Regions from separate parts of the Homo sapiens genome. Here region 1 is linked to region 2. Evidence: fine-mapped expression QTL. A gene starts in region 2. The other region holds a variant in brackets. All regions are shown on one strand. Distances are from middle to middle. Region 1 overlaps EFHC2 (EF-hand domain containing 2). Region 2 holds the start of EFHC2 (EF-hand domain containing 2).

Evidence for each region. PIP is the estimated chance that this variant, and not a neighbour inherited with it, causes the effect. A credible set is the group of variants that fine-mapping cannot tell apart.
Region 1: its variant is the best candidate, but not a certain one, in a credible set for the expression of EFHC2 in blood mononuclear cells (TOPMed, PIP 0.82).

Annotation. Positions count from the first base shown.
Region 1 is chrX:44,307,915-44,312,443 of GRCh38, reverse strand. The region is part of intron 2 of EFHC2 (EF-hand domain containing 2); the gene reads left to right. It also overlaps the pseudogene RRM2P3. Among named protein-coding and RNA genes, the nearest start is that of EFHC2, 33 kb to the left of the region's middle. The variant A/G (reference allele first, on the strand shown) is at 2,387.
Region 2 is chrX:44,341,269-44,345,268 of GRCh38, reverse strand. EFHC2 (EF-hand domain containing 2) reads left to right here and starts at 1,597. Exons shown (of 15, transcript NM_025184.4): 1 at 1,597-1,722. The coding sequence starts at 1,681.

The DNA of each region.
Region 1 (4,529 bases), 33 kb after region 2:
TCTACTTATTATTGCCTTTATTTTTAGTGTTTTATTTTTAGTGTTTCTCCCTTTGTCTTTATTTGTTTAAATTGACAAACATAATTGTATATATTTATGGTGTACAACATGATGTTTTGAAATATGTATACACTATGGAATGGCTAAATTGAGCTAATTAACATATGCGTTACCTCATGTGCTTCTCTTTTTTTGTGATGAAAACACTATTGTCTTACAATTTTCAAATATACAATACATTGTTATTAGCTATAGTCATTGTGTTATACAATAGATCTCTTAAACGTATTCCTCCTAAGTGAAATTTTGCTTCTTTTGACTAAGGTTAGTTCTTCTGAAAAGATAAATTCAAGAACAAAAGTATCCTAAACAAAGAAAAATCATTCTTGCTCTGCTCTTTTTTATCAGGCACATTGGTTGCAGAATGCCAAATGTTTATCTTTCTTGGCTAATGCTTATTAACCTTTCTCTCATCTCCTTCACTGGACAGGATAATCTGTCCTATAGAAACTAAGAGTCTCGTCAGATTGTCACTTTTGCTTTTGAGTTGCCATTGACTAAATAATTGTGTTTGAGTCTGAATGTGGCTTTAAATAGGAATAGAAAAATGCCTTCTCTTCTTTTCTCCATACTAATTAGTAATAAACCGTAGTAATGATTCCCCATCCCTAAGGGCTAAAATGTGATGTGGCAAGAAGAATAGTGAAAGGAAGTGATGCCATTATTAGACAAGAGTTGGAATTTTTTAATGTATATGTCTATACACATACACACACATATACATATGGACATATTGGCAGTTAGAAAAAGGAATGTATTTGAATATTTTTTAAAAAGGCTAAGATCAGAGGAAAGAAAAGGCGACCAGCTATATGGATATGCTGTGTTTATCAGATAGCCCTGTATCACAGCCCAATGTTCTGTTCTCCAGAAAGAACTAGTTATTAGATTATTTTAGATCCTGTAATTGAAAGATAGTTCAGGACTAGATAAAGAATTGAAACCATAGCATGCTAAGTTTACCAGGTGGTTTTTAGCAGCTTTTAACATGGATTGGTTGGCAGTACTTTGATTCTAATTAAAATGTCCTCAAATTGACACATCCCCATGTCATCTGTGATAGGGTAGATCAATTAGAGTGCACATTTTTTTTTGAAGCCTAGTTCTGACACTTATAGTGATCTAACAGACCACAGGGAGGCTTCCTTCCTGGGAAACCATTTCTCCTTTCAACATGGGCCAATATTCTTTTCTTGGATTATTTTCAGTACCTGGCTCAGTGCTGGACCCAAAGCTCAAAAACAATTCTGGGCTGACTGACTTGGGTGGATTATGCATAGTTTTCTGTTACTCTCAATCTTATAGGATGTTTACTTTGCATGGGCCAAAGAAAAGATTCTATTTTTACCTCATGTAAAATAGAGGGTATCGACAATATTTTAAACTAATCCACTACTGAATAAGTATCGTAGGCCACAATGTATTAATATTAAACTATTCTCTTGCATTTCAAGTCGAAAAGTCATTTCATGTTTTTCTCAATATTTAATATGTGCCTTTCAAGCCTATTTTGCAGGCCTTTAATTACTTATGTAGAATATTTCATGAATCTGGAATAATTTTAGCTTCAGACTACTTGAGTAAACGAAGAGCTTGCTCATTTCAGGGCTAACTAAATGCAACATAATTCTTTCAGTTATTTTGTTGGTCAACTTCTATTAAATATTCATTGAGCTTTAAATGAGACACTAAGACTGAAATATTTACGTGCTCTGATGAGACTGTGAACTACAGACTAGATCCTGGTTAATACCCCAAGCAAATTATAAAGCGCTTTCTACATTAGCGGTTCAACAAAAACAAGTCAACACTTGTTAATCATTTGTCTTAAAAATGAGACATTTTCAGTGCACCCCATCCCAGCCGCCCGGTCCCGGCCCCTCACTCTCCTTTGCCGCGCTACCACCATGCTCTCCGTCCGCGTCCCGCTGCTGCACATTACGGACCCGCAGCAGCTGCAGCTCTCGCCGCTGAAGGGGCTCAGCCTGGTCGACAAGGTGAACAGGCCGCCGGCCCTGAGCGGGACCCGGGTTCTGGCCAGCAAGACTGCATGGAGGATCTTCCAGGAGCCCGCGAGCCGAAAACTAAAGCAGCTGCCCCCGGCGTGGAGGATGAGCCGCTGCTGAGAGGAAACCCTTGCCGCTTTGTCATCTTCCCCATCGAGTACCATGATATCTGGCAGATGTATGAGAAGGCGGAGGCTTCCTTCTGGACCACCGAGGAGGTGGACCTGTCCAAGGACATTCGGCACTGGGAATCCCTGAAGCCCGAGGAGAGATATTTTATATCCCATGTTCTGGTTTTCTTTGCAGCAAGTGATGGCATA[A/G]TAAATGAAAATTTGGTGGAGCGATTTAGCCAAATAGTTCAGATTACAGAAGCCCGCTGTTTCTATGGCTTCCAAATTGCCATGGAAAACATACATTCTGAAATGTATAGTCTCCTTATTGACACTTACATCAAAGATCCCAAAGAAAGGGAATTTCTCTTCAATGCCATTGAACGATGCCTTGTGTCAAGAAGAAGGCAGATTGGGCCTTGCGCTGGATTGGGGACAAAGAGGCTACCTATGGTGAACGTGTTGTAGCCTTTGCTGCAGTAGAAGGCATCTTCTTTTCTGGTTCTTTTGCATCGATATTCTGGCTCAAGAAACGAGGACCGATGCCTGGCCTCACGTTTTCCAATGAACTTATTAGCAGAGAAGAGGGTTTACACTGTGATTTTGCTTGCTTGATGTTCAAACACCTGGTACACAAACCATCGGAGGAGAAAGTGAGAGAAATAATTATCAATGCTGTTCAGATAGAACAAGAATTCCTCACCGAGGCCTTGCCTGTGAAGCTCATTGGGATGAATTGCACTCTAATGAAGCAATACATTGAGTTTGTGGCAGACAGACTTATGCTGGAACTGGGTTTTAGCAAGGTTTTCGGAGTAGAGAGCCCATTTGACTTTACGGAGAATATTTCACTGAAAGACTAACTTCTTTGAGAGGAGAGTAGGCGAGTATCAGAGGATGGGAGTGGTGTCAAGTCCAAAAGAGAATTCTTTTACCTTAAATGCTGACTTCTAAATGAACTGAAGATGTGCCCTTATTTTGCTGATTTTTTTCCATCTCATAAAAAAAATCAGCTGAAGTATTATCAACTAGCCACACCATGAATTGTCCATAATGTTCATTAACAGCATCTTTAAAACTGTGTAGCTACCTCACAACCAGTCCTGTTTATTTATAATGCTGGTAGTATCACCTTTTGCCAGCAGGCCTGGCTGGCTGTGACTTACTATAGCAGTGACAATGGCAGTCTTGGCTTTAAAGTGAGGGTTGACCCTCTAGTGAGCTTGGCACAGCAGGATTAAACAGTCATTTAACCAGCACAGGGAGTTGAAAGTTGAAAGATGCAGCCTCACTGCTTCAGCGCAGATTTCAATGTTTACTTAAATATAAAACTGGCACTTTACAAACAAATAAACATTGTTTGTACTCACAAGGCGATAATAGCTTGATTTATTTGGTTTCTACACCAAATACAAAGCATTCTCCTGACCACTAATGGGAGCCAATTCACAATTCACTAAGTGACTAAAGTAAGTTAAACTTGTGTAGACTAAGCATGTAATTTCTAAGTTTTATTTTAGTGAATTAAAATACTCGTTAACCAACTTTAAAGTCAGTCCTGTGTTTAGATAGATACTAGTCTGTTGGTGCCAGATAGAAGACAGGTTGTGTTTTTATCCTGCGGCTTGGGTAGTGTCCTGGGATTCTCTGCCCCCTCTGAGTAGAGTGTTGTGGGATAAAGGAATCTCTCAGGGCAAGGAGCTTCTTAAGTTAAATCACTAGAAATTTAGGCGTGATCTGGGCCTTCATATGTGTGAGAAGCCGTTCCATTTTATTTCTCACTATATTTTCCCCAATTTCTAGTTGATAAGAAAAAACTATTGAAGAGTTTTTTTTTCTTTTTTTTTTCTTTTAATACAAGAATATGTCTCTTTTTATTGAGGTCTTTTTTATGTGCTATGATTAAATTAAATGAGATAATGCTTTAAAAGCACTTATATGTGGGAGCTAAGGTAGTATTGTAAAACTTCAAGTCATCCTTAAACAAAATGACCAACCTAAGATCTTGCTCCTGTTAAGTGGTGAAATCAACTAGAGGTGGTTCCTACAAGTTGTTGTTTATTCTAGTTTTGTTTGTGTGTAAGTACGTTGTGTGAGTTAATTCATTTATATTTACTATGTCTTTTAAATCAGAAATTTTTTATTATGTATGTCCTTTTAGATTTTACCTGTAGTTCATACTTTAAAATAATCACCCAGTGTCTTATTCTAGCATTGTCTAAATCTGAGTATTATCTAGGGGAATCTTAAACTTCAGTAGGAAACCATGAGTTATTCATACAGTTTCCATTCAAATATTAATTTCAGAACGAAACAAAATTTTTTTTTTTTTTTGAGACAAAGTCTCGCTCTG
Region 2 (4,000 bases):
GGCCTCAATAACAGAATCAGGCAAAAAAAGCAAGTAGCAGAAATTTAGAGTGTAAAATTTATAAACACAGAAGCAATAATGGATATTGTTGATGAATAAAAAAGGAGATACAGTCCCTGCCCTGGAGGTATTTGGGGGCATTTAAAGAAATGTCAAGTAAACAGGTAATTACAATGTAGTAGGATGAAAGCCACGATCAGAATAGACACCAAATACAGATGGAGGCGGCAGGAAGAAGGTGAAAGAATATATTGAAGAAATGGCAATACCTTCTATGCCCCACTCCCACGCTGGCCTCAAGTCCTGAAAGACAAGAAGGGGTTACTTATGTGAAAGATAGGAAGGAAGGGTGTTTCTAGACGATAGTGTTATTTGCAAAAGCCCCAAGAGGAGAAACCGCAGAGCCTGATTTAGAAACTGCCAGTGGTTTCTCAGAGCTGGAGTAGATGGAGGAGGGGGCAAAGAAAGGGATGGAGGGCATTGGTAGGTGCCCTCTGACAAAAGCTCCTCAGACCAGGCTATAAGGAGTTTCACCACCTTCTGAAGGCGGCGGGAAGGCTAGATTATTGAAGCAGAAGAGTAACAGCTGCACCATGAATTATAAAAACGACGGCTCTGGAGGCAAGATCAGTTAGTTTTTTGTGTGTGTTTGTTTTTCTTTTTAAAGAAGAAAACCAGGCAAGAAACAATGGGATCGCAGCTGAAATAGACGAGGTGGTGACTGAGAGAGAGCATCGAGTCCAACCTTTAGGGCTTCAGGGAGGGATTAGACGTAGGTGTCGGGAGAGGAGGTTCCTGGCCCGGCTATCTTGGGGTGAACGATGGAGTGACAGGGGTTGCGATTTGTGACACCTGACTCCGCCCCGGCCACCCCTGATTGGGCCTTACAAACGTTTAGTTCAAATACAAAAATGGGCCGGACACGGTGGCTCATACCTGTAATCCCAGCACTTTGGGAGGCAGAGGCGGGAGGGCTGCTTGAGCCCAGGAGTTCGAGATCGGCCTGGGCAACATAGTGAGACCTTGTCTTAAAACAACAAACAAACAAACAAACAACAAATATAAAAATATCCAGAAGAAAAACTGAAGGCGGTGGTTACCATTACAACGCGTTTTCGTCAGGGTATATGTGGCTTTAGATTCATCTTGAACGTTTTAATTACAAAATAAAAGCTGATGTCTATGCAACATAGGAAAATATCGACTTGTGTAACATCTCAGTGAGCACACGGGCGTCATATTACTTTCTGTACTTTGCTGTGTGTTTGAACCACATAGCAAAAAACTGTTGGCGACAAGAATTGGAAAAGCAAGAAAGTACAAGAAAGGCTTTGAGTTCTATAAGGGGGTTAAACCAGAAAGCGGCGGGGGCAGGGAACAGTCAATCTTTGTGTGTGCACACTGCGTGTGCAGAGAGAAGACTCCTCAGGAGACCAGGACCTGGCTGAGTGTGTGCGGGGATGAAGCGGGTGGAGGGGAACTGGGGCTGGGGAGGAGGTACGCGCCGCGGAGGTGTCCCCCGCCCCCCACGATCCTTCTCGCCAACCCCCCGCCCCTCCTCCCTCCGTGACGCCGCTTCCCGTCTCCAGGCAACGTGGGGGCCAAACAACACGGCCGGGAGGCGCCGCTGCCTGCCGGGCCCTCTCTTCTGGGACCCTGGATTTTCGGACACTGAGCGCCATGGCCCTGCCTCTGCTGCCGGGCAACAGCTTCAACCGCAACGTGAGTAGGAAGGGCGTCCGAGGTCACAGCTCCCGGCTGGAGTCTGGGGTCCAGGCAGGGTCGTGGCGTGGCCACCTCCGCAGACTCTCCTGGAGGCCCCATGCTGCTGCCCTGGGTTGGTGGCAACTTGGACCAAACTTTATAGGCTGCTTCTCCCATCTCTCCAGCTGCATCTGAATGTTTTTCCTAATTTAGAAATATATAGAGAGAGTCCTTATAGGTGGCAGGACCCTCAAAGGTAACAAATAATAGTGACGATAACCATTGGGGGTTTAATGTGTGCCAGGCGCTGTGCTTTAATCACCTTATGCAGCATCCAGTGTCCCAACAGCCCTTTGAATTAGGTAGTTTTTATTCCCAGTTACTATTGAGGAAACTGAGGCACAGAACCACACAGTCTCAGTGGTGAAGCTGGGTTTCTTTCAAGCAACCTTGTCTCCACAGCTCAGGAGCCTAATCATTATCCCCAGTATCCTGTGTGAAAAAAGATACCGTTTCAATTATCAAATTGAAGAAATCTGGCACTTATCAAGAGGGGTAGGTGGCAGATAAGAGTTCTATCAGCCTGTAAAGTTTACTCCCAAACTTTATAGAGACAGGCACCCAAACTTGGAGGGATTTTTTTTTTCTCTATTTATAATTGGGAGGGGTTCATTTCTTTTTTTTTTTTTGAGACGGAGTCTCGCTCTGTCGCCCAGGCTGGAGTGCAGTGACCCGATCTCGGCTCACTGCAACCTCCACCTCCCAGGTTCAAGCGATTCTCCTGCCTCAGCCTCCCGAGTAGCTGGGATTACAGGCGCCCGCCACCACACCGGCTAATTTTTGTATTTTTAGTAAAGATGGGGTTTCACCATGTTGGCCAGGCTGGCCTCGGACTCCTGACCTCAAGTGATCTGCCCGCCTCGGTCTCCCAAAGTGCTGGGATTACAGGCTGAGCCACTGCGCCTGTCCTGGAGGGGTTCATTTCAAAAGAAGATGAACGTACAGAACAAAGCAACACAACACAAAAAACCCTGAGCATGAAAGAACTTTTGCCAATAAATAGCACCTCATTTAAACGACAGCAGGAAAATGATTCAGGCTTTTGTTTATACTGGTTACTACCCTTCACTTGGGTCAGCCATCTGTGTCTGCAGGAGAAGCTAATTCCCAATTAGATGGGAGGGAATTAGATGGAGCCACTCAAGGCAATTGTGTAAACCTTTGATAACTTTAGAAAGCAGGCAGCAGATTGAAGTATTTGGCTTTATGGTTTCCAAACACTGTCTGTATCTAAGTTGTTGGCCCTGAAGTACAAGTTTTTTCTTTGTAGCTTCACGCCATTGAATTCTGACCCCTACACGTCTGGTCAGTCCAACTTTGAACACTGATTTGTGCATTTCTTGGTTGATGGGCAGAGGCTGGCCTTCCAGCATAGCATTGCCCTTTGGTAAGTTTAAGCCAGTCACGCAAACAAGAAAGGCCCCTGAGAGACGGGACATGAAAACAGATTCCAGAAGTAAAGAAGCATGCTGTGTAAAAGTAATTTTAATAAAAAATGAAAGTAAAGCCTACAGCTTTTTGCCCAGCAACACTCTGATTACCAGTGCCTGCCTCCTGCAGAAGTATCATAGCTCTCACGTGCAGTGATTAAGGATGGGAAGGAAAAACAGTGGATGGATGAAATATTAATAAATCTGCAAGGTTCTGCGTATATTTTTGCTTTTTAAAAAACTTTAAGATCATGAAGTACAACACATATACAGAAAGATGCACAATGGATGATCACAAAATGAATATCAAGAAATTAAATATGGGGGCTGGGCGCAGTGGCTCACGCCTGTAATCCCAGCACTTTGGGAAGCAGAGATGGGAGGATCCCTTGAGCCCAGGAGTTCGAGACCAGCCTGGGCAATATAGTAAGACCTCATCTCTACAAAAGATTGAAAAAATTAGCCAAGCGTGGTGGCACATGCCTGTAGTCCCAGCTACTCAGGAGGCTGAGGTGGGAGAATCATTTGAGCCTGGGAGGTCGAGGCTGCAGTGAGCCATGATTGCATTACTGCACTCCAGCCTGGGCAACAGAGCCAGACCCTGTCTCAAAAAAATAAATAAAATAAAATATGACCTGTTCTCCAAAAATACCACCCTTGACTGGGGTTGCCAGATTTAGCGAATAAAAATACATATCTCAAATACTGCATGGAACCTGTTTATGGGAAAGGATTATTTATTGTTTACCAAATTTAACTGAGAATCTTGTATTTTATGTGACAACTCTACCTATGAACCTTTCTGT